Linked DNA regions of Homo sapiens: regions 1 and 3 are each linked to region 2. Evidence: fine-mapped expression QTL. A gene starts in region 2. Each other region holds a variant in brackets. All regions are shown on one strand. Distances are between the middles of the regions. Region 1 holds the start of ZNF7 (zinc finger protein 7). Region 2 holds the start of ZNF34 (zinc finger protein 34). Region 3 overlaps ZNF251 (zinc finger protein 251).

The links.
Region 1: its variant is fine-mapped to the expression of ZNF34 in unexposed skin (GTEx, PIP 0.96).
Region 3: its variant is fine-mapped to the expression of ZNF34 in whole blood (TOPMed, PIP above 0.99).

The regions. Positions count from the first base shown.
Region 1 is chr8:144,819,690-144,830,504 of GRCh38, forward strand. It overlaps ZNF7 (zinc finger protein 7), which reads left to right and starts at 7,871. Exons shown (of 5, transcript NM_003416.4): 1 at 7,871-7,920; 2 at 9,354-9,401; 3 at 9,789-9,915. The coding sequence starts at 9,399. LOC100130027 (a long non-coding RNA gene) reads right to left here and starts at 7,351. Exons shown (of 5, transcript NR_147501.1): 1 at 5,624-7,351. RefSeq lists a silencer at 7,062-8,191 and enhancers at 7,523-8,048, 8,049-8,574, 8,575-9,100. The variant G/A (reference allele first, on the strand shown) is at 5,155.
Region 2 is chr8:144,783,290-144,791,780 of GRCh38, forward strand. ZNF34 (zinc finger protein 34) reads right to left here and starts at 4,028. Exons shown (of 6, transcript NM_001286769.2): 1 at 3,990-4,028. RPL8 (ribosomal protein L8) reads right to left here. Exons shown (of 5, transcript NM_001317782.2): 2 at 8,484-8,491; 3 at 7,988-8,206; 4 at 7,066-7,181; 5 at 6,480-6,673. The coding sequence ends at 6,515. It also overlaps the pseudogene RN7SL395P. RefSeq lists a silencer at 3,757-4,116 and enhancers at 4,267-4,496, 4,537-4,596, 6,779-7,280, 7,281-7,780.
Region 3 is chr8:144,714,513-144,725,327 of GRCh38, forward strand. ZNF251 (zinc finger protein 251) reads right to left here. Exons shown (of 5, transcript NM_138367.2): 5 at 6,397-8,870. The coding sequence ends at 7,132. LOC100996662 (a long non-coding RNA gene) reads left to right here. Exons shown (of 3, transcript XR_001746144.3): 3 at 1-333. Among named protein-coding and RNA genes, the nearest start is that of ARHGAP39, 34 kb to the left of the region's middle. The variant A/G (reference allele first, on the strand shown) is at 4,922.

The sequences.
Region 1 (10,815 bases), 38 kb after region 2:
TTTGGCTCTAATCTGACACTGTATGGGTGGCCAGGCCCCCAGGCTGGACCCACAGCAGCCTCCCACTACCGCCAGTGGCCTGAGATTGGCAGTTAGAACTCAGATCCTGAAACTAAACCACATCCTGCAGAACACTAAGCAAGGGACTCACTTTATGATCTAAGATCCAAACTCCTTTGTGAACTCCCCATTGTCTGGCTTGGGGAAAAAAGCCTGTCACTAACTGAGGAGTCTAGTTACTCACACTTCTTCACCAGCAGCCCAAGGGGGTCTGACAGGGGGTAGGGGGAGATCACATTGCATTGGAAAAAGAAACCCCCAGCCTATGGGACACAAGCTCCTTTCACCTGTGCTCCTCCTCTCCTGCTCAGCATCACACCTGGCCTGCAATCACCCACAACTGTCCTCCTCCCACACACAGCTGCTGTGGAAGGCAGGAGGTGGTTCTGTGGGCGTGGGGGAGACCCTGGTGGCACCCTTAGCAGCCTGACCTCTGTGCCTCCGTGTCTCACCTGCAAAGGAGGGCATCTCCTGCCTCACAGGTGCTTGTGAGGACGAGCTGAGAGACCAGCTTTTGAACGGGGAGGGGCTGTGACATGTCAGGGCTGTTCTGGACCCAGGGTTACTGCAGTGAACCAGAAAGATTGTGCTGCAGGAGCCGAGGAGGTTGCCCTGACAGGCCTGGAAGTGGCTTAGGCTTGGATCCTCCATCCCTGAGCACCTGGCATCGGGCAGACCAGCCTCCCTGGGGCAATGCCCACTGAGAAGCTGCAAAGCATCCTCCTGGACCATCTGTACCCTGGGGGGACATCCCTTGGTCCCTCTGTACCCTGCAGACCGGCCCCTCTTGAGGGACACACAGACTCCGGCAAGGCAGGAGCCAAGGGCAGTGAAGCAAACCTGTCAAGGTGCTGCCGTTCCCTTGGGTGTCTCCCGCCAAGCGGCCTCCATTCTCAAGGAAGGGAGCACCGGCCACCTGTATGCATCCACCGCGCGAGTGCGCAGGGGCAGGCTTGCCAGGACGGAGCGGCCTTGCCACCCACTGCCCACGAAGGCATCCTGGCACACCCAGCATGGTCTGAAACCCTCGTATGAAGGAGGAGCTTCTCACAGCCTGCTGCTGCCCCAGCCACAAGAAACACAGGAGCACAGGTAGGGCCCACGGAGTCCTTGAGGCCTGCTACGAGGGGCCAGTAACTACGTTTACGCCAGCAGCCATAAGCACAGGGACACAGGCAGATACCACCAGCCCGGGAAGGACGGGTGCGGTGGCTCACGTGCCACCTGCCTTCTTGCCGCAGCAGGCCTGTGGCCACTCTCTGGCTCTGCCTATCCCCATGCAGGCTGGACCTGTGGGGCACTGGTCCCTGGAGGACTCGAGGTCATGGGAGACTCTGACCCTGCCCCCAAGGAGTCTAGGGGAGCTCAGAGGTGCTCAGCTGGAGACAGGCCTGTGAGGGAAAACTGTCATTCACGCCGCAGGCCACATAAGAGTGACCAAGGGGTCACAGGTCTGAAAGGGCACTGGCGAGGAAGATGGGGAGGGCACCAGTGGGGGCCAGATGAGGACTCCGGGGCCCTGAGGCCTGAGAACAACCTTCACCTGCCGTGAGACACACCTGACGGCTGCACCTGCCGCTGATGTGGAGGCAGCCAGAGCTGCGGCCAGGAGTTCAGGACCAGCCTGTCAGCAGCTGCCAGAGAGGCCCCACCAGGCACCCCCAGTGCCTCTCACCTGCCAGGCTCTAAGCTCTGGAGCTGTCTGTTCTCAGAGTCCACCCCAAGGAGGCAAGACACTGTTGGGCCTCACAAGCCCTGTGCCCCGGCTGTCGCCTGCATCGACATGGCCCAGCAATCCAAGCCGGCTCATCCGGCAGCTCCAGGGCCCCTCGGTGTTCGTGGGTCTTTGTGAGCTGGGGAGAGCTGGAGAGAGGCCCCTCCGCGTTCGTGGGTCTTTGTGAGCTGGGGAGAGCTGGAGAGAGGCCCCTCCGCGTTCGTGGGTCTTTGTGAGCTGGGGAGAGCTGGTGAGCAGGCCCCCCTTCTGTGAAACAATCTGGGCCTCAATGATGAGTCAAGACTCAGGTCCAGTCCTGGTGGCCGGCCACCCTCCCTCCTCTAGGACACCCTCCTCTTGTCCATCACACCAGGACGTCCCCTTCTCCTCCCTCTAACTTCCACTGAGAATGGCCGGCCGTCCACGGGCTCCACGCCCCTAGCCAGGGCTACAGTCCTCACAACCTGGCTTGAGGTCTGAGCTACCGGCTGAGGGTTTCTGCCCTGGGCTCTAGCCGTGGCCTCCTGGCTCCTTTGTTTTCTTTCTTTTCTTTTTTTTTTTTGAGACAAGGTCTGGTTCCATCACCCAGGCTGGAGTGCAGTGTCGTGATCTTGGCTCACTGCAACCTCCGCCTCCCAGGTTCAAGTGATTCTCCTGCCTCAGCCTCCTGAGTAGCTGGGACTACAGGCACCCGCCACCACGCCAGGCTAATTTTTGTATTTTTTGTAGAGACAGGGTCTTGCCATGTTGCCCCGTCTGATCTAGAACTCGTGAGCTCAAGCCATTTGCCCTCTTTGGCCTCCCAAAGTGCTGGGATTATACGCACGAGCCACCGTGCCCGGCTGACTCCTTTTTCTGAAACTCTTGAAAACTTCTTGTCTCTACACCTGCTCAAATTCAAAATCTACTCCCAAACCCCAAGACTGCAAAGAAACAACAGTCAAATCTCAGCCATCCCCAGCCACAAGCCCAAGGCTGATGGACAGACCCCCACCTAGACCCAAACTGCGTCTCTGTCCTGGGGGGACAGACCCGGCCTGGACCCCTCTGTGCTGAGCCCCTCTGGTCCTGGGCACCTCAGCAGTCCCACCAACCTCTCACCACACCATCTCTGTCGCCACTCGGGTGCTGCAGAGTCTGCAATGGTGGTTGATTGACAGCTCCCCCTCTCCTCCATGGTACAGCCCCCACCAGCAATGCAGCTGTTCCTGTTCAACAACAGGCCCCGAATGACCAATATGACAACATGGAGGTCCTAACAGCTGCTAATCGAACCCCAGGTTTCTCCTGCTTGAACCCAGGGAAGGATCCCTTGCCTCCTGAGATGCACTTCAAACGGCCATGTGCTGCTGAAGGGCCTGGAAACCCAGCCTCACCTGACCTCACTTCTCCTCACCCTCACCTGGAATGACCACAGTCCCTGCACCAGGGCAAAGCCAATCGCTGTCATTCAGGCTGCTCCTCCCTGACCGACCATCTCCCCTCAGGACCCCTGGTGCCCTGAACAGCAGGCACAGAGAAGACCCTCCAAGGTCACGGCAGTAGATACCCTCTCCCAGCCCATGTCACCGGGTCCTCAAGCTGGAAGCCTCACTGTCGACTCATAACCAGCCCGTGTGGCACTGCTTCCTGAGGCTGCCTCCCCCTGGACATCCCTGGTGTGATGGCAGCACGGCCATCCCCAACGCACAGCAGAGCCTCCATCTCCAGGGCCTCTGTGCCATCCTCCTCTGTGTGTGCGCAGCAGCCTCTACTGCTGTTCCCAAAACCCCAGTCCTGTGGCTGCTCTGGCACTCGTGGGTCTCTGTATGGCATGGTGCCCAGGTGGGGCCAGCTGTCTGCCCCAGCCCTCCGTGAGGTGGGCGCTGTGGCTCTTGGAGGCTCCTGGCTCCTAGTTCTCTGTCCTCCGAAACTTCTGAGCTCCCAGGCCCACTCCAAGTTGTGGCCTGGCCTATGGCAGTGGAGCTGTGTCCACCCTGTTCACGCTCACTCACCTCTGCTAGGGTCCCTTGGGAGCACTCTCCCCCGTTTCTGGCCGGGTGAGGATCCAGGGCGCCTCCCCTCATTCCAGCAGGGAGATTAGCTCAGGTTTGCAGGCTGGAAATCCTGCTTGAGGAAAACAGTCCAGAGGCCTGGAGTGAGCCTGGGGAGGTGCAGCAGGCAGGGCCTGAACCGGCGGACCCTCATACCCAGCTAGCCAGGCGGGCTGCCCACAGGACACTTGAAGGGTAGGAAGCGGCTGCCAAGATCTCACCCCCAAAGATGCCCAGCTGGCACAAGCCTCCAGTCTCTCTTGATTTGGCTGTTAGAGAAAAGCAGATTCTGCTTGTGGTTGTCATCATGCCATCCCAAACAGATCATCACTACAGGGAGGCACGATCTCTGTACTCTGATGGGTGCGGCATGGGTGAGGACTGACTGTCCAGAGGGCCCAGGGTGCCTTCCAGGAACACCTACAGCACCGCGACCTGATGCTCACCTCACCCCATCCCACAGCAGCCCAGTGCCCTCCTGGCAGTGCCCACTCCTCCCCAGCTCACCCGTCAGGCACTGTTCCTCCCTAGGTGTTCTCTCCACTGCATAGAGGCTTGGACCCGACTTCACGAAGACATTTTGAAACCATGCACCAGAGAGTGTGTGCATAGAATGAAGAACCTTTTGTTTGCAGGGCTCCGTCCCTGCTCTCCAGGGTCACCCAAGCATTTGGGGCCTTGATCCTGGAGAGGCTGCTCCCTCCAGGGCTAGCTAATTCCCAGAGACGGCAAACACTCCCCTTCCAGTGCACCTTTTTTTTTTTTTTTTGAGACGGAGTCTCGCTCTGTCACCCAGGCTGGAGTGCAGTGGCGTGATCTGGGCTCACTGTAGCCTCTGCCTCCTGCGTGCAGGCGATTCTCCCACCTCAGCCTCCTGAATACCTGGGACTACATGCGTGCACCACCACACCCTGCTAATTTTTTTGTATTTTAATAGAGACGAGGTTTCACCATGTTGGCCAGGCTGGTCTCACCTCAGGTGATCTGCCCTCCTCGGCCTCCAAAGTGCTGGGATTACAAGCGTGAGCCACTGTGCCCAGCCCCAGTGCACCTTTGAGACACAAACCAACCAATCCAGAGTCCACAACTATCTCCCTCCCTTATCACACGGTCACTCACCAAGCCAATATTTCCCCTGCCCTAAGTAACCCGAGGGCCAGGTACCGGACAAGAAGGGGCCACCCCTACAGCCCTGAGCCTGCCACAATTGTTCAAATAGTCCAATCGTGAGCTCACTCTGCATACCTACCCTGCCTGCCCTCTCCTTCCAGAGAAAATAAAGGCTCCGGCCAAACTCAGTCCTCTCCCCCTTTCTGCCTCCTGGCCATCCCTGGTCCTTCTCATGTC[G/A]CCCTGTGTGCCCTGCCCAGTTTCCAGGGACCCACGACTATAACTTCTTCCTTCACAACAGTCATTCTCACGTGTGCATGCCTTACCACACCTGTTAAAACAAATCCACGGGTCCGGGCGCGGTGGCTCACGCTTGTAATCCCAGCAATTTGGGCGACCGAGGTGGGCAGATCTCCTGAGGTCAGGAGTTCGAGACCAGCCTGGCTAACATGGTGAAACCCCGTTTCTACTAAAAATACAAAAAATTAGCCAGGCGTGGTGGCAGGTGCCTGTAATCTCAGCTACTCGGGAGGCCGAGGCAGGAGAATCGCTTGAACCCGGGAGCAGAGGTTGCAGTGAGCTGAGACTGTCATTGCACTCCAGCCTGGGCAACAAAAGTGAAACTCTGCCTTAAAAAACAAACAAACAAACAAAAAACAAATCCAGGATACATTTGAACTCACCTTGAGATGTGGGTGTCTGCACTCACCTTGAGATGTGGGTGTCTGCAGATGGCAAGGGACCTGTGGAGGGGCTCTGTGGATTGGAAGCACCATTGCTCTGGGCTGTCCACTCGGATACGGAGAGTGCTGTTGGAAATGCAGCACCTTGAAAGTGTCTTTGTAGTTGAGATTTTTTCCTGGAAACATTTACAGCTTGGAACTGTTCTATCTGGCCAAATATGAGGAGGCTAGAGTTGCCCCAAAAGTGGCAGCAAGGGAGTTGCCTCAAAAGACTTCCCCAAACAGTCCCGCGATGGAATTGGTTGGGATTCCAAGGAAAGAAGCTCTAAACGCCAGGGTGATCAGTCCAGAGCATTTCTTCCGGAAATTTTCACATGGAGCTTCAGCTTTCTTGGGATCGATGATGAGGCAAGGGATGCTCCACCCAGGTACATTTGCAGCAAGGGACTCTGGCTATGGAGCTTAGATGAGAGTTTAAGGGATTGGACTCAGGGCAGGGCCAGTTTCTACGTGTTTAGCAATAGGGTTGATTGTGTTTTCAAGCAACCTAAACAGCTTTATCAGGGAATGTGCCCGGCCCCATTGAACTGGGTTCAAGGCTGCAGGGAACACGCAATGGCCAGGTCCCAGAGCAATCAAAGGACTCTGTGTTTCTCAATCAGTAGAGAAAGAAAAGGGGGAACTGGAAGACCCTGTGAATCCCAATCTCAGCTAGGGATGAGCAATCCAGGCTGGCCCAGAGCATAAGCACCGTGACCATGTGAGGGCCTGAGTGTGCCTGGCTTTGGAGGGTCTGCTTGCTCAGTGGCCTCTAGACTCAGCCGGGCAGTGGATGCAGTGGATGGAGGAAGCCCCCTCGCCCCAGACAGGACCTCAGGGCCTCAGAGCCCTGGCATCTGCACCCTGGACACAAGGAAGGTGCCTATGAGGTGGATGCTCTAGCCAGGCTTTCTCCCCCTCCTGCTCCTGTGTTACCCTGGTGTGCCCCCCTCACCTGCAGCAGGCCAGGTTGGGGCATAGGGTTGCCGGCCCCTACCAGCCCTGGGGGTCTGGAGGGCGGCTGGGGAAGCAGACCCCCTGTCCTTCCCTATCCTTCGCGACATGCTCCCTGAGCAGCTGCAGTCCACTTAGATGACCAGAGAGGATGTGGGGCTGAGGGAGCCGAACTCGGGGCAGCAGGGGCGGGGGTGGGAGTGCCGGGATCATCCGCACCGGGAGAGGCGAGGCCGGCGTCTGTTTTTCACCTGGGCCTCCCTGGGGGGCTGGGGGCTGCCTGACTCTTCCCTCCTTTGGTTTGCGCAAGTTTTCCCGCGCGGGTTCGGATCAACACGCCGGGGGAGCCCGGCTTACGTCCCTCCTGGACCCCCGCCCCGTTCTTCCCGTGGGGAGGGGCGCGTCAGGCGGACCTGGCACCCTCCGGCTGCTGGGCTTCGCCGGGAGCCACGCGGGGAGGTCCAGGCAGTCGGGACGCAGGCAGCGTCCTCGCCGAGGCTGCGAGTCCGTGGCCGTCCGGGGGAGGCGCGCAGGCTCTGCCGGACGCAGAAGGAACCCGAAGGAGGCGGGGTGGAGGGCGGTGCGGGGCCGGGGAGGGGCGAGGCGAGTGGCGAGTGGACGCCGGGCCCGGCCTCGGGCAACTCCGAGGGGCGCCCTTCCTCGGGGTCCCGGAGGCTCTGCGACCCCGCGGCCGCTCCAGCCGCTCACTGGGGACAAGGCCCGAGCCAGGCGTCTCCGCGAGGCGGGGTCCATAGCGCGCCCAGCAGGCGCCTCCTGTCGCAGGGACGCGGGGGAGCGGCGCCTGAACAGCCTCGGTGGGAACCAGCGCCCGAAGCTGGTGATCCGGGGTGCGCAGGGCCCAACCGGGCGATCCCCTGGATCTCCGCCAGCCTCGCCCCGACTCCGCTCCTCCCACCCGCCAGCGAGTCCGCAACTCCCGGCCCCGGCCCGCGTCCCCAGCTCCAGGCCCCGGCCCCGCCCCGCCCCTGCTCAGGCACCGCCCACTCCGGGCTCTGGGCCCTCCTCTCCCTCGCGGCTCCGCCCCCTGCCCGCCTCTGACTGTACCCCGCCCCCAGGCGCCAGCCCCGCCTATCTGGGCTTCTGGTCCCGCCCAGGTTCTTGTCCCTCGGGCCCCAGCCTCGCCCCTCCTCGGCTCTGACTCCACCCCTTCTCCGGAGCCTGGGAGGCGGGGCTGAGAACCACAGAGATGGCCGGGCCTCCGAGCGGCCCAGGGCGGCCGGAAGTTTGCGGGGCGGGGCGGACGCGGGTGGCCAAGGCCCGTTTCCGGCGGCGTCGCGCGTTTGCGAGCCTCGGGTGGTCCTCAGGGAGGGTGAGTCGGCGCGGCGGGCGCGGACTCGGGTTGCCCTCGGTCCGAGTGATCCCTGGTCGCTTCCTTAGCCCTCCCGCCTTCGGCATTGGGGTCCCCGCGTCCCCCGGGCCTCCAGGCGGGAAAGCGCGGGGGCTTTGCGGGGCCTTGAGCGCCTGGTGTGGGAGGTGGTCGAGCCCAGCCACCCTCCCCCGCGGCGGCGCGAGGTGGGCTTCGTTTGGCCGAGTCTCGCAGCTCCCCGCAGACCCCGCTCGTGGCGGCCACGGTGTCCGGGGCCTGAGTAAGGCGAGCTCCAGCTGCGGCCTTTTCTTCAGGCCTGGGTCTACTCCCGGGGCCCTGACTCCTCCTGCGAAATCACCTCCTTCTAGAGCCTTTTCTCTTTCTATTTATTGCCCCGGAAGGCCTAGGATAAGTGACAGTGGAGGAAGGAACGGTGCCTTGGGTGGGGTAGGCTGTTTGTCTTCTCTAAATTCTGGTTGCTATTCCGGGCATTCCTACTGTCAGGAGCCAGGTGGGGGGATCAGCCTACCTGTGCCGGTGACCTGGGGCTTCCACCCACAAACCACTTTCTGGGCCAGAAGCTGCCATACGAAGACTCTTTTTCCCATTCCGACCTCCCGGGGGAATGCCTGGGCAGGTAGAGGGTCTGGGGTCATTGGCTTAATTGAGGTGAACGATTTATATCAGATTACATCCCTGTGCCTGGTTCCATCCTGGCGACAGGTGAGCTGGAGACTGGAATTTATGTACTTGAGGGCAGGGGTTTCCATGTCCACTCTTGTCTTCCCTACAGTTTGTCATTTTTGCTCCTGCCTTCTCCAACCTCCAGTCGCTCACTGCCTTCCCCAACCTCCAGTCGCTCACTGCCTTCCCTTGCTGCCGGGAATTTACCCACACTGGTTCATCCAACCCCATTTCTTCTTGCTTCAGGCCCTTTCACATGCTATTCCTGCTGCCTGGAGTGCTCTCTCCACCTCCATTACCTTGGCCGAGGTCCCTGGGGAAGTGACCCATTACACTGAACGTTCTAGTCTAAGTGGCTTTCATAGTTCCCTGTACTTGAGCGCTGTCGTGGTTGCAGTGTGCTTATTTGTGTGGTTATTTAACTCTTTCCTCCGCCAGACTGCTTCGTGAAGGCAGGGTCCTCGTGTCCACTACTGTATCCCCATTACTCAGTGCCTGGCACGTGGCATCCACTTCTTACGGCTTTGTGGAGTGAGTCACACATGCCACACACACATACACTCTAAAGAGGAACAAGAGTTCAGTGGGCCTCCTTCACTCAAGTGCCATGGCTGCTTCAGCCCAGCCCCATGTCCCTGCTAGAGAAATCTGGGGCTGGAGGTAAAGGAGCAGAGAGCACAGTACCCCCTTGATTAGCCTGGAAGTTGGGCTTCTGGCACCTTGACCTCTAATCCTTTCATAATTGCCAACAGGTCTCTCGGCCAGAACACGTGGATGCCCACCCACCACTGAGCCTCATGGTAGGAAGCTTGACTGCCTCCTTCCCCTCGCATGTCCTGTGAAGGCCCACCTCCTGCTCTGCCCACTGGCCCTGGGCCCAGACCCTACCTTGGCCCTTGCTGGGCTTAGGAAGGCCCCCTTGCCCCCAACCCCAAGGTAGTGAGCAAACCCCTGCCCAAACCAGGGCCTAATTGAGGCTCTTGAGGGGGGAGGGTTGTATGACCACCATGGACTGGGTTCCTTCCTCCTCCCCGAGACTGCCCCTCCCCAGAATATTAGAGGCAGAGGAGTCCTGGTGAGCGTCTCGCCCAACCCCATGGGGCAGCTGCCTGAGACATGTCATGAGGCAGCGCCAGAAGGGGGCTGGCACCCAGGGATTCCTGGGGTGCTGGTGTGTGTCCTTTCAGGAGGTGGTAACATTTGGCGATGTGGCTGTGCACTTCTCTCGGGAGGAGTGGCAGTGTCTGGACCCTGGCCAGAGGGCCCTCTACAGGGAAGTGATGCTGGAGAACCACAGCAGTGTGGCTGGACTAGGTGAGGCTGCACCTTGGGGCCCCTTCCCCTGCATCATCAGTCAGCACCCACCCAGCCAGGCCTCCATCAGAGGCTGGGGTATGCAGGCCAAACGCTCAGACCCTTGTGGGCTCCACAGGGGGCTTGGACTCATGAGTGGTGTGCCAGGCTGGTTCCTAGCTTTGCCCATGTCATGGGGTTCAGCCCCCAGGGAGTGGGTGGGATTCTGGGAGTTAGTAAAGCCTCTTTTTTTCCTAAGCTGTTAAATTGTGAGAAATAGAATCCAAACTTGAAATAGCTTAGACAAGAAAAGAGAAATTATTGGGTGGAGAAATCCAAGGAAAAGGTTGTGCAACGAGCAAGAGGTGGCAGCGACGCCCACACGGCTGCTTTGCAGATGCCGTCATCCCCTTGCCCCTCCTGTCCTGCCGTTAGTCTCCTCTCTGAACTCCACCACCGCCACAGGCAGCCACTGCGGTGCTCTTTATGTCCATGCCTGTGTCCTCACAAGCTGTATACTGTCGTTGGATTGCAACTTGGTGAGGGGGGGTGCGTCTTAACTTGGGCCTTGCTGGGCCTCTTGCCTGTGACTAAGCCCTCTGCTGCATCACACGCCCGAGAGAGTGCCTGGGCTGGGGGATCAGGAGTGGAACTGACGCGGGCATCGTTGGTTGGCCAGGAGCTTCTTGGGGTGTTGGACCAGGCCTGTCCCCCTCTGTCCCGGCTAGTCTGGCAAAGTCCAGCTTTCTGTTTTGCCAGTCAGATAAGTGTACAGTGGGAGGCTGTTGTAGTTTGAGTTTGCATTTCTCTGATTTCTGCTGAGCTTGAGCCTATTTTCACACCCTCATTAGCTTGCCAGGTTCTTCTGTGAAATATCTGTTCAGGGCATTTGCCCATATTCTAGGTCCGCTGTGTCTTATT
Region 2 (8,491 bases):
GACACATTAGAAGCACTTGTAGTAGATTCAGTGACAAGAGAGGGACGTTCCCTCACCCTGCTGCTATTCAACATCCTAGCCAAAGCAGTAAGTTACAGAAAAAAGAAATATAAGCTACAAGGATCAGAAGAAAAAAGACAAAATCATCATTCTTTGAGAATGATAAAAATAATCTACATAGAAAATCCAAGAGTTATCAATCCACTGTTGGAATGACAGGAGTTCCACAGCATTGCCATATACAAGGTCAACAGAGAATAATTAATACCACTTCTATTTGTCAGCAATCAGCAACCGAAAACTGACCATTCACAATAGCTACAAAAACTATACAGTACATTAAGTCTTAAAAAAAGATATGTATGTAATGAACAACATTATAAAACTTTATTGAAGTACCTTAGAAAGGTCTATGGAGAAACAGACAATGTTTCTAAATAGGAGGGCTCAATAACATAAAGATATCAATTATCCCCAAGTTAAATTTATTTTGTGCAATTATAATAAACATTTCAACAGGACATGATATCTGACCAAAATGACTCCAAATATCACATGAAATAGTAACGATCTAAGATTAGCCAAGGCAGTGTGGCCAGGCGCAGTGGCTCACGCCTATAATCCCAGCACTTTGGGAGGCCAAGGCGGGAGGATCACGAGGTCAGATCGAGACCATCCTGGCTAACATGGTGAAACCCCATCTCTACTAACAATATAAAATTAGCCCGGCCATGGTGGCAGGCGCCTGTAGTCCCAGCTACTCGGGAGGCTGAGGCAGGAGAATGGCGCGAACCCGGGAGGCGGAGGTTACAGTGAGCCGAGATCACACCACTGCACTCCATCGTGGGTGACAGAGCGAGACTACGTCTCCAGAAAAAAAAAAAAAAAGATTAGCTAAGGCAATACCAAAAAAACAACCAAAGGAGGCAAGGGTGTGCCCTACTAGATATCAAGACTTAGGCTATGGTAATGGAAAGTGAAGTTTAAGTATAGGAAAAAAGATAATGGAAGACATCTATGGATATGTTAATATACCTGCAATATTAATGGCAATGAAGAAGGACAATAAATGGTATTGGCACAACTGGTTTTCCATTGGAAAATAAAATTAGTTTCCTGCCTTCTGTGGTACACAAATATACTTCAGGCAGGTTGAAGACCTAAACATTAAAAAAAAAAAAAAAAAAAGGTCGGGCACGGTGACTCACGCCTGTAATCCCAGCACTTTGGGAGGCCGAGGTGAGTGGATCACAAGGTCAAGAGTTCAAGACCAGCCTAGCTAAGATGGTGAAACACTGTCTCTACTAAAAATACAAAAATTAGCCGGGCGTGGTGGCGGGCACCTGTAATCCCAGCTACTCAGGAGGCTGAAGTAGGAGAATCGCTTGAACCCGGGAGGCGGAGGTTGCAGTGAGCCAAGATCACGCCACTGCACTCCAGCCTGGGTGACAGAGCAAGACTCTGTCTCAAAAAAATAAATAGAAATAAAAATAAATAAACAATAAAAGCCTATAAAGAAAAAGATTGTTTGATTCCATCAAAAAGAAAAAAGGCCAGGCATGGTAGCTCACACCTGTAATCTCAGTGCTTTGGGAGGCCGAGGTGGCCAGATTGCTTGAGCTCAGGAGTAGGAAACCAGCCTGGGTAACATGGTGAAACCCCAGCTCTACAAAAATTAGCCAACGTGGTGGTGTGAGCCTGTGGTTCCAGTCAAAACCTCAGGTGGCTGAGGTAGAAGAATCGTTTGAGAGTGGGAGATGGAGGCTGCAGGGAGCCAAGATGGTGTCACTGCACTCCAGCCTTAGCCAGACCCTGCCAAAAAAAAAAAAAAAAAAAAAAAGAAAAAGGATTCTGTACAAGACACCACAAAGATAAAAGGCAAGCAGACAAGCTGCAGAGTGAAAGATATTTGCAGACACATAACAAAGTATAAATATACAGAATATATTTAAAACATTTTTAAATTAGAAAAATGTCACAATTTTTAATAAATGAACACAGGATATGACCTGGCAAACCCTGTAGTCCCAGCTACTCAGAAGGCTGAGGCAGGAGGATCACTTGAATCTAGGAGTTCTGGGCTGTAGTGCTGCTGTGCCAATTGGGTGTCCCCACTAAGTTCGGCATCAATATGGTGACATCCGGGGAGCAGGAGACCACCATATTGCCTAAGGAAGGGTGAATCAGCTCAGGTGGGAAACAGGGCAGGTCAAAACTCCTGTGCTGATCAGTAGTGGGATCACGCCTGCGAGTGGCCACTGCACTCTAGCCTGAGCAACATAGTGAGAACCCCATCTCTAATTTTTTAATTAAGAAAAAATGTAAAGTAAAACAAGACTCTCCCCACAGATTGGGGAAATATAAAATACTTCATAATACCAAATGTTCAGAACACTGTAAACTGGTAGACACTCTAGAAATATGTCTGGCCCTACCTGGTAGAACTGAAACCCTGCAAAACTCTCAGTGGGGAAACCCCACTCGAAGTATGTACTTTATGGAGACTCTTGCTAATGCACACAAAAAGAAACACAAAAATGTTACCATGTGCCTGTGTAGAAGAAGAAAAAACTTCAGCGTCCATCAGCAAAGTCAGAGTGGTGGAAAGTAATGTCAAGGAGATAGAGCACAGTTATAAGGCTGAGAAAAACTGTCAGGTACAGAATATACACAGTATAATACATAGGTAGTTTTTTTTTTTTTTTTTTTTTTTGAGACGGAGTCTTGCTCCATCACCCAGGCTGGAGAGCAGTGGCGGGATCTTGGCTCACTGCAAGCTCCGCCTCCCGAGTTGACGTCATTCTCCTGCCTCAGCCTCCCAAGTAGCTGGGACTACAGGCGCCCGCTACCACGCCCGGCTAATTTTTTTGTATTTTTTAGTAGAGACGGGGTTTCACTGGGTTAGCCAGGATGGTCTCGATCTCCAGACCTAGTGATCCCCCCCGCGCCTTGGCCTCCCAAAGTGCTGGGATTGCAGGCGTGAGCCACCGTGCTCTGCCATACATATGTAGATTTTTAAGAGACAAAAACAGTATTAGGTTTGTAGAGATATAAGAAAACGAGGCCGGGCGCAGTGGCTCACGCCTGTATTCCCAGCACTCTGGGAGGCTGGGGCGGGCAGATCACTTGAGGTCAGGAGTTCGAGACCAGCCTGGCCAACATGGTTAAACCCCATCTCTACTAAAAATACAAAAATTAGCTGGGCATGGTGGCGGGCGCCTGTAATCCCAGGTATTCGGGAGGCTGAGACAGGAGAATCCCTTGAACTCGGGAGGCGGAAGGTGCATTGAGCCGAGATCGCGCCATCGTACTCCAGCCTGGGCGACAGAGCGAGACTCCGTCTCAGAAAAAGAGAGAGAGAAAGGAAAGAAGGAAGAGAAGAGAAAAGAAAAGAAAGAAAAAATAAAGAAGAGAAACAAAAATCTGGCTGCCTGGCTGCGGGGAGAAAAGCCTTGGAGCGCCAGAAGCGAGGAGGGTGGGGCGGAGGGAAGGCACAAGCAGAGGGAGGAGCACTGGCGGAGCGCGGACGCTAAAGGCAGGAGGGGCGGCATTCGCAGAGGGCTGGGAGGACCGCGAGACGCACGAGCCCCGCCCCTGAAAAGCTGACAGGAGAGGAGCGTGGGAGGGAGCCGGGATGGGAAGCCTCGGGCCGCTGGGACCAAGGGGTCTGGAGCGCATCGGGACGCAGAAGCCGCTCTGTGCGGCAGGAGTCCAGGGGACCCCGCGTGGGGCAAGGGAGTTGTCAGGGGCTCGAGAGCGGAAGGAGCCCCGTGAGGAGCGACCCCAGGGCTGGCAGAGAGCGGCGAGGCGCAGTCCGTACTCGGGGCCTTGTCCGGGGGGTCCCTCGAACAGGAAGTGCCGCTGATGGCGGGACGGACCCACGCCTGCAGCACCGCGAGAGGACCGGGCACAGGGGCAACGCGCAGGGGAGGGTCTGCGCCGGGAGGGTCTGCGCCCCGCGCGCCCGCCCCCGCCGGGCTCACACTCACCTCAGCGCCGCCGAGCAGCACGGCAGCCCAACCTCGCCCGTTCGGCCCTCCCTCCCCGCCAATCGGAACCGATCCGGAAGTGACGTCAGCCGACTGTCTGGGTCCGAGGCGCCGTCCGGGCCGCTCTGGGAAGCTAGGACGCCGCGTGTCGGCTGCCCACCTCCCTGGCTTGCAGTAAGGCTCCGGGGACCCGCGAATGGCAAAGCCGTAAAGCGGGAATGCTGCCACCGGGTGGCAGTCCGAAGCCACGGCCCAGAGGCCTCAGAACTGGGGCGATGGTCAGAGGCGAAAACATATTAGTCTTTCCCTTTTTCTGAGAAATTCTCTCCCTAATGATGCACGAAAGGCGCCGCAAACAAGAACTAGGCCCTTCGATTTACAGAGAAACGGGAACCGCACCCTTCCTTAGGGCCAAGAAAGGATGCTTACTGGCCAAAGAAGCCTGTCTTGGGTTTAACCTATTGCTCCTCATCCTTAACTCCTGTAAATGGGGCCCAGTGTCCACTCTGGAGAAAGGGTTTTTCGGGTGCCTGAGCTGCTTCTGGAACAAACTTTCCCTCATGGCCGGTCCATCGGCCAAGCCCTGCCGTCCACTTTGCCCAGAAGGGAGCAGAAAAACAGTGACCGCTTATGGCCAAGCTAAGCATCTAGTGCTTTCCCAAAACCCTCTTTCCAGATGCCCCTCCATCCTTCAGGAGGAAACACCGCCCTCCTGGATTCTTTCTCGACAAGTCAGCTGGGACCCTGGGACCGGCCCTGCGAATGACGAGATCAAAACCAGGTCCCGTAGTTACTGGCGGGGAGGCGGGGCTGGAGTGGGAGGACCACATGAGGCCAGGGGCTTGAGACCAGCCTGGCAATAGCGAGAGCCTGTCTAAAATAAACAGGCCCTGCTGGGTCACTGCCTAGGTGTGGTGGGCGCCCAAAGACAGGTGGGGCCATACCAGCAGGATCAGGAAAGCAAGATCACGAAATGGGGGGTAAGGTTCTCTAGAGACAGCGTGGACCATGACAGCCAGGAACCACCGCGCAGCCAGTTAGGACTTGTCATCCCGGAGTGACCACGGAAGCCTAAGGTGACTATTCTCACCTGCCAGGCACCCTCCAACCAAGTCTATAGGGAGAGACCGTGCCTCATCCTGCCTGCTGCAGTTCCACAGGAGTGTTGTTAGGGGCAGTGATCTGCAGCTGCTGCATTCGCTGGTGGAACTTCCTCGTGTGAAAGTGCTGATAGGATGCTGTCCTGGGATCTCCTCATTGGATCATGGTTAAGGGACAAGATGCCATGGGCTATGGCCAAACAGGAAGCCCCTCCACTCTGCCTTGTGACGGAAACCAGCTTACTTGCCCTCCCATTGCAGGGGGGGTTCCCCAACACTTCCAACCTGATTCCACTCAATCATCACTGTCAGCCTCATCACTACCAAAGCTAGAGAGAACCAAAGTATCAGCCCCTGCCAGCAGGGAAAGGCCATGTGCTTTAAGGTAATCAATGCAGCTTTGGGGGCTGTTCCTGGTTAGTTTCTCTGCCCCAGGGAAGAGGGGGCTACATGCCCTGCGAAGCTGTGGAGTTACAGGACTCAAGGAGCAGACCAACCTACTGCTGGTGCCAGCTCCAGTCCAGTGTAGGGCTCTGGGTGGGTGGGTGAAGGGACTTGGGTGGTCTGGGATTCCCCATACACACACTGCATGCATTCATCCCTTTGTTCAGCAATCCCAGCAGTGACCTGGGACCCCACACTCAATCACCACCCTCAACCTCACCTGTCACTATCAGGCTAGAAAATGAGGAAAGGCATGAGGCCCCACCCACCACCCACAGGAAAAAGCACCCAGAACCCTCCAGTCAGTGACCACTCCCCACCATGGCGGGGTGGGAATGCATGCAGAACAGAATGGTAAAAGCCAGGCTAGGAATGGCTTCCTGGCTGTAGACAGGGTGCCTGTCCCACATTCCTTCAGGGCCCATCCCAAGTTCCCAGTGCAAGGCAGACACCTGCAAGCCAGGTATCCCTGGCAGTGACTTAAACACACTGACATCAGCAGGGCTGTAGCCAGTATGGAGGGAAAGGGTGTCGCTAAAAGACCCTGGGCAAAGGACTGCCTCAGGTGCTGAGAAAGTTAGCAGGGAGCTGACAGAGTGAGGGTATGGTCCAGAACACCAGGCTCAACGATTGTGTCCTATTCTGTTTCCTGATACGTGAAATGAGTGTTCACATCCAAGCACTGCAGGCCATGGGACTGAGTCACCCACATAAGTGTCAGGTCCTGGATGCCACATTCTTGGTCCCCTCTGTGGGGAAGCAAGGGTCTTGCCCAGGGTACCTGCACCCCGTTTCTAGTTGTGGACTTTCCCTTCAAGCTTCTACCACTCACTGGTGGTCTACTTCAGTAGTCTAACTCCCTCCCAGTACCAACCAGGGGGATCCCACAGAAATCCTCCCAGCAGGGACCCCTCCCTTTGAAACCATGGGGGTGGGCACAGCCAGGTGGCATAAACACAAACTTTATTGAGGCCCTCAGCACTAGTTCTCTTTCTCCTGCACAGTCTTGGTTCCCCGGAGACGTCCAGTCCGGCGGGCAGCAATGAGACCCACTTTGCGGCCAGCAGGGGCATCTCTGCGGATGGTGGAGGGCTTGCCGATGTGCTGGTGGTTGCCACCTCCAAAAGGATGCTCCACAGGCTGCAGGCAGAGAAAGATGGCTTTAGAAACCTCTTCCCCACCACCCCCGCCCCCGGCCTCGGGGTCCCACCCGTCAGGGGCCCAATTCCGCGAAGCCCCTCTCCACAGCATGTGCCGCTAGACAACCCCAGTCAGGCTGACTCTTTCCAGCTCAGGCCCCCACTGCCCCTCCCAGCCTCCGTTTCTTGCGGAGAAACGGTGAAGGAGGGTGAGCCCACCTCCTTCAGGAGTGCTGGAGCAGGATCAACAGTCCCGTGACTACAAACCACCACCTGCTGCTCCTCCCACCGTAGATCCCCCTCCTGCAGGGACACCTGTGGATGGGACTTGCCTACCCAACAGTGTGGCCACTGTAACTTCAATACCCAACCCTGCATTTCTGGGTTACTTACATTCATGGCCACACCCCGTACTCGTGGCCAGCAGTTCCTCTTTGCCTTATATTTGTGGTACGCCCGGCCAGCCTTCAAGATGGGTTTGTCAATTCGGCCACCTCCAGCCACCACACCTGTAGGGGATCAGATACCTCAGGGAACCCCCAGTCGGTCAGAGCACCCCCACCTCCCCTCAATCTCCTGTCATGCACCTTCCCAATACTGCATCCAACTACCCAGCAAAAAGCCCACTCGCCTCCACCCTAGGGAGCCCCTTGCACCCTGTGAGCTGACATCCAGTTTCTTCAATCCACAATGGGCAGGCAAGCCAAGGCCCTCACCTCCATCACCTAGAATGCTGGCTGAGCTCCAAGCGCAGGGAAGCACCCCCCTCACCATGTGTGAGACGTCAGGCCGGCCACTCAACCTGACGTAAGACACTTGATTCAGCCTGCCCCATCTCAGCTTTACTTATTCCAGGAACACAACCTCAGAGCCTCCCCTGTGCGAGGCTGAGTTCATCACAAGGATTCCAAGATGTTCCCAAACAGCACAGTGAGTTAACCTAGACTCAAATCCTTTTTCACTCACTCAGTAGGCGTCTTTGAGAAAGCCACAATCTCTCCCTGCCTTCTCTAAAAAGGCTGTTAACCAACTGCATGCAAGTGCAGCAATCAGGAAGCCCACGGTAGAATCCAAGACCCTGGTGACTTCGTCCCAATCTCATTTAACGCCTCAACAGCAGTAAAGCAGGTACTGTTGTGCCTGTTGTACAGTGATGACAACTGAGACTACAGGATGAGCTCAAACTTACAGAACCCAAGTTTTAGAACAACAGGTAATCGAATTCCAGGGACCAAGTCTAGCCACTGGCTGTCCACCGGCACTCACAGCATGTTCACCCACAGCCCTCAGCATTCAACTGCTGCCTGATACTCACCAACCACAGCTCTGTTGGCTGAGGAGATAACCTTCTTGGAGCCGGAGGGCAGCTTCACACGGGTCTTCTTGGTCTCAGGGTTGTGGGAGATAACGGTGGCATAGTTCCCTGATGCCCGGGCCAGCTTGCCACGGTCTCCAGGCTTCTCCTCCAGGCAGCACACGATTGTACCCTCAGGCATGGTGCCCACAGGGAGCACATTGCCAATGTTGAGCTGGGCTGCAAGGGGAAGCAGCATCAGGCCGTCAGCACAGTAAGAAACAATGCGAACCCCCTCGCTCTAGGCAACCCGCGAAGTTGCGAGCACAGCATTCAACATCCAGCCTCCCGGTACAACTCTCTCGGCACCCACCGGTGGCCACTGGTCTGGCCACGCGGATGTCCCCACCTGAAGCTTCTGCCTGCGAGGTTCCCATATCGGCTTAGGACGTTAACTCCTCAGGCAACACCCAGACCCCTCCCCACCCCGACCTTCCTTCCCCGCCGCGATGCTAACCCTTCTTG
Region 3 (10,815 bases), 68 kb before region 2:
AGAATTTCTCCAGGTTTACCTTCTTGAGGGGTCGCCAAACTGTTTTCCAAAGCAGCTGCCTCATTGTACCTTCCCATTCTGTATCTGTTCATCCATACAGCCATACATGACAGTTTCTCCACATCCTTATCAACACTTGTTATTGGCCTTTTTTTAAAAAATCATAGTCATAGCTGGTGGGTGTGAAGTGGTGTCGCTTTGTGGTTTTGATTTGTATTTCCTTGATAAGTAATGATGTTAAGCATCACCTCACATGCTTAATGGCCATTTGTGTATCTTTGAAGAAATATCTATTCAAATCTTTTGCCCATTTAAAAACTACTTGTCTTTTTATTGAGTTGTAAGAGTTGTTTCTCTGTTCTGGATACAAGTTCTTTAGCAGATAGATGGTTTGCAGATATTTTCACCTACCGTGGGTTGTCTTTTTCAGTTGTTTGTTTTTTGAGACGGAGTCTCACTCTGTCGCCCAGGCTGGAGTGCAATGGCGCGCCATCTGCGCTCACTGCAAGCTCCGCCTCCCGGGTTCACTCCATTCGCCTGCCTCAGCCTCCCGAGTGGCTGGGATTACAGACGTGCGCCACCGTGCCTGGATGGTTTTTGTACTTTTTTTTTTTTTTTTTTTTTTTGTGAGACGGAGCCTCGCTCTGTCGTCCAGGCTGGAGTGGAATGGTGCGATCTCGGCTCACCACAACCTCCGCCTCCTGGGTTCAAGCGATTCTCCTGCCTCAGCCTCCCGAGTAGCTGGGATTACAGGCACTCGCCACCACACCAGCTAATTTTTGTATTTTTAGTAGAGACAGGGTTTCACCATGTTGGCCAGGCTGGTCTCAAACTCCTGACTTCGTGATCCGTCCACCTCGGCCTCTCAAAGTGCTGGGATTACAGGCGTAAGCCAGTGAGCCCGGCCAGTTTTTGTACTTTTAGTAGAGATGGGGTTTCAGCATGTTGGGCAGGCTGGTCTCGAACTCCTGACCTAAAATGATCCACCCGCCTCAGCCTCCCCAAGTGCTGGGATTACAGGCGTGAGCCACCACGCCTGGCTGTCGTTTCACTTTCTTTTTTTTTTTGAGTCGGAGTCTGGCTCTGTTGCCCAGGCTGGAGTGCAATGGCATGACCTCGGCTCACTGCAACTTCCGCCTTCTGGGTTCAAGCAAATCTGCCTTGGCCTCCTGAGTAGCAGGGATTACAGGCGCCCACCACCACACCTGGCTAATTTTTGTATTTTTAGTAGAGACAAGGTTTCACCACATTGGCCAGGCTGGTCTTGAACTCCTGACCTCGTGATCTGCCCGCCTTGGCCTCCCAAAGTGCTGGGATTACAGGTGTGAGCCACCATGCCCAGCTCACTTTCTTGATGGTATCATTTGCAGCACAAAAGTTCTTAATTTTGATGAGGTCAATATTTCTCTTTTTATTTTGTCATTTGTGCTTTTGGTATCTCTTTCAAATAACCTGCTTTTGGTTTTCTTCATTGACTTTATTGTTTCCTTTTTTAAAATGTTCATTTTCCCATTACTACTTCTTTCTTTAGGTTTACTCTAATATTCTTTGTCTAACTTCTTAAGTTGAACATTTAACTTCTTAGTATATTAATTTTTTTTTTTTTTTTTAAGAGGCAGGGTCTTGCATAGTCACCCAGGCAGGAGTGCAGTGGTGCCATCATAGCTCACTGCAGCCTCAGACTTCTGGGCTCAAGTAATCCTCTCACCTCAGTCTTCAAGTAGCTGGGACCACAAGCTCAAGCCACCATGACTGGCTAACTTTTGTGTTTTTTGTAGGGACAGAGTCTCACTATGTTGCCGAGACTGGTCTCAAACTCTGGCTTCAAGCAATCCTCCTGCCTCAGCTTCCCAAAGTGCTGGGATTGTAAGCCACTATGCCCAGACTAATTTTTGATTTATAATTATGAAAGTACAATAGATTACTTGACAAAAGTTTATAAATTAATGAAGACTGGACTTAGTAATAGGCTGATTCTTTTTAAGCTCTAAGTAATAGAAGTTGAAGGACAGTATTTTTAGTAGCGATGGGGTTTTGCCATGTTGGCCAGGCTGGTCTTGAACTCCTGACCTCAGGTGATCCGCCCCCCTCAGCCTCCCAAAGTGCTGAGTTTACAGGCGTGAGCCACCATGCCTGGCCTTAAGCTTTCTTAAAGTTTTTATTTAATTATGAACCTGACAAAAGAAGTATATATTTATCATGGACATGTTTTGAAATATGTGTACATTGTGAAATGGCTAAATGGAGCTAAATAGCATATGCATCCTCACATACTTTTTTGTGGTGAGAAAAAAGCTACTCTAGGCAGTTTTGAAGAGTACAATACATTGTTAATAACGATAGTCACCATGTTGTACAGTAGATTTCTTGAACTTATTCTTCCTATTTACTTCCTCCAAAGGACACAAAGGAAATTTGGTACCCTTTGATCAACATCTCCCTGAGCTTTTTTTTTTTTTTTTTGAGACGGAGTCTCGCTCTGTCGCCCAGGCTGCAGTACGGTGGCGCGATCTCGGCTCACTGCAAGCTCCGCCTCCCGGGTTCACGCCATTCTCCTGCCTCAGCCTCCCGAGTAGCTGGGACTACAGGCGCCCACCACCATGCCCAGCTAATTTTTTGTATTTTTAGTAGAGACGGGGTTTCATCATGTTAGCCAGGATGGTCTCGATCTCCTGACCTCATCATCCACCCGCCTTGGCCTCCCAAAGTGCTGGGATTACAGGCATGAGCCACCACGCCCGGCCTCCCTGAGCTTTTTATTTTGAAATAATTTTAAACTTGAAGAGTTGCAATAATGCAGAGAACTCCCAAATAACCTTAACTCAGACTCACCAGTTCTTAACCGTTGCCATATTATTTCTCTTTCACTTTTTTCTGAACCATTTAGAAGTAGGCTTGAAAGAGTCATTTTGTCTATAATTTCCTATGTTCCATATCTTCCTGTATTTCTTCCTGTTTCTTTTTGGGGGTACAGAATATAGGATGAGACACTTTTTAGTTTTAAAATATCTGATTCTAGATGTTTTTAGTATCTCCAGATGCTTGCTTGAGTATATTTACTTCTGTTGTGTTAGTTTTCTTCTGCTCCTTTGACTTCTAGTCACCTTGGACTCCCAGGACTCCAGCTCCATCTCCATCTCCTAAACTTGTAGAGACTGCCCAGCATCTCCTTATGCGCAGGTGGATTTTTTTCCTAGTCTGTCTTTATACAGGGGGTTCAACCCTTTGGGGTTCCAGCTTTAGACAGGGGCCCAGGTTCCAACCATCACCCTCAAGCCACCCAGGCCTGTCTTCATGGGGGCTGTAAACGAGCCCCAGAGCTGTCCTAGCATCAGTTTCCAGGTGGGAAGCTCTGACTTTCATTTCGGTCTTCATTTTTACCCCTGAGGTGTTCCCTTGCTCTCTTGGTGCTTAACCATGCATTGTCCTACTAACATCCTCAGTCCCAGGGTCCACAGCAAGTACGTGTCACAACAGCCCTTAGAGCCACCCACAAGCCCTCCCATGCCCCGGTGCTTCCTTCCATTCTACGTAAATGTGAGGCCTGTGGGCCTCTTAAGGGAGGCATCATTGTGGGACCTTTCCAGTAGATCAGAAGGAGAAAACAATTTTAATGTACCCAGTGTGCTCATGGACAGAGCAGAAGCAGAACACAAGGTTCACATTTACGCAAAGCACATTCTTGGCACTGTTTCCTTTCTCTGCCTCCTTCACCTCTCTTCCTTCCTTCCCAAGTACATCCTAAGCACCTGTTCTGTATCGTGTGCTGGAGATAAAAAGGTGCATAAGACAACATCTCTGACAGCAGAGAGTTCTCCGTATAATGTAGGGTAACGAGGTAGAAAGGAAAATGTAAGTTGAAATGGTGGGGATATGAATGTTGTGCTGTGGGATACAAGGGTAAAAGAGTTATTTTTTAGACGTGGGGGAGGTGTTTTTTTCCCCCATTTTAGAGCTGGAGAAAAAGAGACCCAAGAAGATTCAGTGTTTTCCCTGAGGTCAGAGTGAATCCATTTCAGAGGGAGACAGGACCCTCCAGGTGAGCCTGTGCTATCCACTCCCTCTTTTGTGTGGACCATTCCACATGGACCACACTAAGGCTGGCAATTCCCACACTTGGAAGAGGTTCTGTGATAAGAATTTTAATAATAAAGTGGGGGAGACAGAACCTGAGCGGGGGAATAAGCGCAGCAAATCACAGAATGGATGTTAAACCAAATGTAGCGGTGACCCCAAATTCCCTAAGAAAACAGTAAGGCCAGGCGCCGTGGCTCACGCCTGTAAGACCTGCACTTTGGAAGGGCAAGGTGGGTGGATCGCTTGACTCCAAGAGTTCAAGACCAGCCTGGGCAACATGGTGTGACACCATCTTTACAAAAAATTAAAAAATTATCTGGGTATGGTGGTGTGTGCCTGTAGTCCCAGCTACTTGGGAGCTGAGGTCGGAGGGTTGCTTGAGCCCAGGAAGTCAAGGCTGCAGTGACCTGTGATCGCTTCACTGCACTCCAGCCTGGGTGATAAGAGTGAGACACTGTCTCAAAAGAAAAAAAGAAAACAAAGATGGAATGAGAGATTAACTAAGGTAGGCTCCTTGAAGGGGGGAAATATTTCAGTTAGACCTGGAGGGAATGAAAGGTAGATTTGAAAAAAGATTCTTGGCCGGGCACGGTGGTTCATGCCTGTAATCCCAGCACTTTGGGAGGCCGAGGCGGGCGGATAACGAGGTCAGGAGATTGAGACCATCCTGGCTAACACAGTGAAACCCCGTCTCTACTAAAAAATACAAAAAATTAGCTGGGCGTGGTGGCGGGCGCCTGTAGTCCCAGCTACTTGGGAGGCTGAGGCAGGAGAATGGTGTGAACCCAGGAGGTGGAGCTTGCAGCGAGTAGAGATTGCGCCATTGCACTCCAGCCTGGGCGAC[A/G]GAATGAGACTCCGTCTCAAAAAAAAAAAAAGAAAAGAAAAGAAAAGAAAAAAGATTCTTGCAGGTAGAGTCTCAGAATTGAAAATCAGAGGCCGGGCGTGGTGGCTCACACCTGTAATCCTAGCACTTTGGGAGGCTGAGGAGGGCGGATTATGGGGTCAGGAGTTTGAGACCACCCTGGCCAACATGGTGAAACCCCGTCTCTAAGAAAAATACAAAAATTAGCTGGGCGTGGTGGCACGCGTCTGTAGTCCCAGCTACTCGGGAGGCTGAGGCAGAAGAATCGCTTGAACCTGGGAGGCGGAGGTTGCAGTGAGTTGAGATCGTGCCACTGCACTCCAGCCTGGGTGACAACGCGAGACTTTGTTTCAGAAAAAAGGAGAAAAAAAAAAAGAATTGAAGATCAGAATTTCACAGGTGATCACACTCTGAGAAACTACTACAGTGTTATTCAAACTTCCCAATGAAACTCTTTAAATAGATGCTTACTGATCAAACCATGGTCAATAGGAGAATGCAAATTAAAACCATGGATACCACTACATCTCCACTAAAATAGCTAGAATATTAAAAAATGGACAATACTGCTGGGCACGTTGGCTTATGCCTGTAATCCCAGCGCTTTGGGAGGCTGAGGTGGGTGGATCACCTGAGGTCGGGAGTTGGAGACCAGCCTGACCAACATAGAGAAACCCCGTCTCTACTAAAAATACAAAATTAGCCGGGCGTGGTGGTGCATGCCTCTAATCCCAGCTTCTCAGGAGGCTGAGGCAGGAGAACCGTTTGAATTGAACCCGGGAGGCGGAGGTTGTGGTGAGCCGTGATCGCGCCATTGCACTCCAGCCTGGGCAACAAGAGCAAAACTCCGCCTCGGAAAAAAAAAAAAAAAAAAAAGGACAATACCAAGATCTGGTGAGGATTCAAAGCAACTAAACTCACACATCATCAGTGGGGATATACAACTGACTTTGTAAAAGTTTGGCAGTTTCTTAAAATGTTAAACATAAGCTTACCATATGACCCAGCAATCCCACTCCTATTTACCCAAGATAACTGAAAAGTTAGATTCACAAAACAGCCTGTAGTTGATACACAGTGATGGCAGCTTTAATCATAGTTGCCCATACTGAAAATGCCCAAATACCCTGCCATGGGTGAACGGATAAACAAATGGCTCCATCCATACAATGGAATGCTACTCGGTGCAAAAAAGCACTCTACACAGGCAATATGGATGACTCCAATGCATCATGTTCAGTAAAAGCAGCCACGTGCAAACAGCTGCACACTATTTCTGGAAATGGTGAGGTGATGGATAGAGGATAGAAAACAAACCAGTGGTTTCCACGGACTGGGGTTGAGGAGGGGTTAACCACAAGAGAGCACAAAGGAATTCTGGGTGGTGGTGAAGATGTTCAATGTCTGGAATGTGGTAGTGGCACAATTGTATGTTTTTGTCAAAGCCCAAAGAACTATACACTAAAAAGAGTAAATTTTATTGTTTATAAATTATGCTTCAATAAACCTGCCTTTAAAAAATTTTTTATCAGTAATTACAATTTTCAAAAGTGGAGATACTTGGTAGGCCCCTGCTTTCTTGGCCCCTAAGGTCCCTCTCTCTGTTAAACTGTAGAGCTCCTTAGAACCAAAACCAAACCACCTTTCATTTTAATGAAAATGAAATGCAAAAACTGGGGCTCCAAGCAAGGAAGAAACGTCTACCTGCAGTTCATCTGGGGGTTGGTGGGAGAGGTGGTGGAGAGAGTAAGGCTAAGCGCCCCCAGCAGGCCCAAGTTCTCTGTACCACACTTGGAGGCAGGTATATGGGACTGAAAGTGGATGTTCTCAGCCACAAGCCTGGGCCTGGATAGGAAACAAAGGATAAGACTGGAAGGATGTCAGGTAGGGTAGACCCAGAGCACCAGCTGGGCTCACTTTTCACGCCCTCCATCCATTCGTCATGAGTATCCGGATACAGCACCACACGGTTCAACTCCTGAGCACAGCAGTAACCTTTACACAGACAGCCTGATTTCCCAGAATGAATTCTCGTGTTTACTTCCAGATTTAATGACTTTGACTTTAGTAGTCATCTGAACTATTTATTTTACTTTGCCAGTAATATTTAGACCTTATATATCTTTCATTATGCCATCTTATCTTCTAATGTCAAGTGAACAGTTGCTAAACTGTCTTCTGCATTTATCACATTAAAAATGTCTTTCTTGGAAAATCTTCTTGATATGAATAAAGTATCTTTTAGAGCCATCATTTAAAGCAGGTTTCTCTCCAACACGAGTCTGCTGAGGTGGTGTGAGCTGTGAACTCTGGCTGAAGGCTTTCCCATACACACTGCAATGACATGGTTTCTGACCAGTGTGAGTTACCTGATGTTGAATAAGGGTTGACTTTCCACTGAAGGCGTTTCCACATTCTTGACATTTATAGGGCTTTTCCCCAGCATGCATTATCTGATCTTCAGTGGGTCGTGAGGTGGGACTGAAAGCTTTTCCATATTCATTACATCCAAAGGATTTCTCACCAGTGTGAACTGTCCAGCGCAGAATGAGATTTGCACCATGGTTAAAGGCTCTGCCGTGCTTCTCTCCAGTGGGAATCTGTCCATCTGCTGTGAGGCTGGAGCCATGAACAAAGGCTGGACCATGTTTTCTGCACTTACGAGTCTCTCCGCTGTGAACTTTCTGATGCTGAATGAGGGTTGACCTCCGGCTGAAGGCCTTCCCACAGTCACCACAGTCATAGGGCTTCTCTCCAGTGTGAACTCGCTGATGTAGGGTGAGCTGGGAGCTCTGGCTGAAAGCTTTCCCACATTCAACGCACTGGTAGGGCTTCTCCCCAGTGTGAACTCTTCGATGCTGAACAAGAGTGGAACTCCGACGAAAGGCTTTGCCGCACTCATTACAAACATAGGGTTTTTCTCCTGTGTGAATCCTTACGTGTTCAGTAAGATGAGAGTTAAAACCAAAGGCTCTGCCGCATTCATTACATACATAGGGTTTCTCTCCAGTATGAACCCGATGATGGAGGAAAAGGCTTGAGCTCTGACTGAAGGCCTTCCCACACTGATTGCATTTATGGGGCTTCTCTCCAGTGTGAATTCTCTCATGCTGAATAAGGCTGGAGCTTCGACTGAAGGCCTTCCCACAGTGACTGCATTCATGCGGCTTCTCTCCAGTGTGAATTCTCTGATGCTGAGTTAACTGGGGGCTCTGGCTAAAGCCTCTTCCACATTCATTACACTTGTAGGGTTTCTCTCCTGTGTGAATGATCCGATGTTGAATAAGAGTTGAGCTTCGACTGAAAGCCTTCCCACACTCACCACAGCCAAAGGGTTTTTCTCCAGTGTGAATTCTCCGATGAAGACGGAGGTGAGAATTGAGTCCAAAAGTTTTCCCACATTCATCACATTTAAATGGTTTATTTCCAGTGTGAATGTGATGGTGCAGAACAAGATTTGAGCTGTGAGTAAAGGCTCGCCCACACCGGCCACATTCGTACGGCTTCTCCCCAGTGTGACTTCTCTGGTGTCTACTTAGGTCTGAATTATATTTGAAGGTTTTGCTGCATATATCACATTTAAAGACCCTCTCTCCTGTTTTATTTCTTTGAAGTCTAACAACATTTTGGTCCAGATTCAAGTTTCTATCAAATGCACTACACTCTTGGGTTCTTTCTCCCAAAGATCTTTCCCTGCCCACGGTAGCTTCTGTTAAAACTCTCTTGTGAATATTGGGTTTGTTCAAACTCTGCCCGGCAGAATTTCCCACGCGCTCTTTGAGTTTGCCCTCACGGCCCCATGCTTCCCGAAACTCAGCGGCCTGTGCATTATCCCTTAAGAGTCTTCTTGATACAAATTCTGGGGTTTTTACTTCTTCGGAAAATTTTTGGTTTAAAATAGATAGTTCCTTCTTGGTCCCAACCTCAGAATCTGTTAAAGAAAAATATAAATGAGTTACTAGAGAAAACCTTCCATCAGGCATAATGTCCATAATGTGGTAGAAGCTCCTATAAACCATCATGCAGAAGGCAGATGCTCCAATAGGAAAAGATGTGAAAGGCAGAATTCAGAAGTAAAGATGGGATGGCCAATCAACAGGATAAAAATATTCAAGTTCATTAGTTATCAAAGTAGTCAAATCAAAACAAATTACGATTTTTCACCTATCAAATTGGCAAATTATTCAACAAATATTTAGAAGGCCAGGCGTGTTCTAGGTAAGGAATATACAGGAAGGTAAATATAGTCTCTGATCTCATGAAGCTTATGTTCTACTCAATTAGATAGCAAGTAAGTTCTTAAAAATAATGATACACCATGTGACAGAAACTGTGTAAATGTGTTATTGGCCCCAACCTAGTCTACATGGTCAGAGAAAATGCCAGGAGTGAGATTCAAGCTGAAACCTGACAAAAGAAGTAAGTTAGCAGTGACAGACAGGAAGGCCTGGGCCTGGCTGTGATGCACAAAAATATCCACCGAGTTCCTGATGTAAAGAATCTGGGCCAGGGCCAGGCGCGGTGGCTCACGCCCGTAATCCCAGCACTTTGGGAGGCCGAGGTGGGCGGATCACGAGGTCAGGAGATCGAGACCATCCTGGGTAACACGGTGAAACCCCGTCTCTACTAAAAATACAAAAAAATTAGCCAGTCGAGGTGGCAGGCGCCCGTAGTCCCAGCTACTCAGGAGGCTGAGGCAGGAGAATGGCGTGAACCCAGGAGGCGGAGCGAACCCGGGAGGCAGAGCTTGCAGTGAGCTGAGATCGCGCCACTGCACTCCAGCCCGGGCAACAGAGCAAGACTCCGTCTCAAAAAAAAAAAAAAAAAAAAAAAAAGAATTAAAGCAACAATCATGCCGTGTACTGTTGGTGGGACTGTAAATAAATGACCTTTTTTTGAGATAGTGTCTTGCTCTGTTTCCCAGGCTGGAGTGCCACGGTGCAACCACAGTTCACAGCAGCCTTGACCTCTCAGGCTCAAGCAATCTTCCTGCCTCAGCCTCCCAAGTAGCTGGGACTACAGGTGCAGGCCACTGTGCCTAGCCAAAATATAACTTTTTTAAAAAGCTGACAATATGTAGCCAAAAAATTGATATCTCACACACCCTTTGTCCCCCAAACTACTCCCCTAGGATCCATCCTAAGTGGACTGCCATATGTACGTTGAAATGACTACAATGATGCTCGCTGCATTTTGTAATTGGGGGGAAACAAGGAAGAACCCAAATGTCCAAAAACGGGGCTGTTTAAACCCAGTAAAAACTATTCACATAATGGAATACAATTCTACCATTATTATAATAGAAAGATATATAATTAAATGAAAAGCTCATATTACAAAGAGAAGAATCAGGTTCTAAAATTATATGCACAGCATAAACCAACTTTTATTGAACATAGATATATATGTAAGATAGTTGCTATTTCTTCCTTAACTGTTTAGTACAAGTCGGTGAAGCCATCTGGGCTTGGCATTTTTTCTGAGGAAGGGTTTTAAATTATGAGTCAATTTATTTAGCACTCAAACAATTATGTATCCACCACCACCTTTTTTCTTTCTTTCTTGTTTTTTTTTTCTTTGAGACAGAGTTTCACTCTTGTTGCCCAGACTGGAGTGCAATGGCACGATCTCGGCTCACCACAACCTCCACCTCCTGGGTTCAAGCGATTCTCCTGCCTCAGCCTCCCGAGTAGCTGCGACTACAGATGCTCACCACTATGCTCGGCTAATTTTTTGTAATTTTAATAGAGACGGGGTTTCACCGTGTTGCCTAGGCTGGTTGCAAACTCCTGAGCTCAGGCAATCCGTCCGCCTCGGCCTCCCAAAGTGCTGGGATTACGGGCGTGAGCCATCGCACCCGGCCTCTTTTTTTAAAA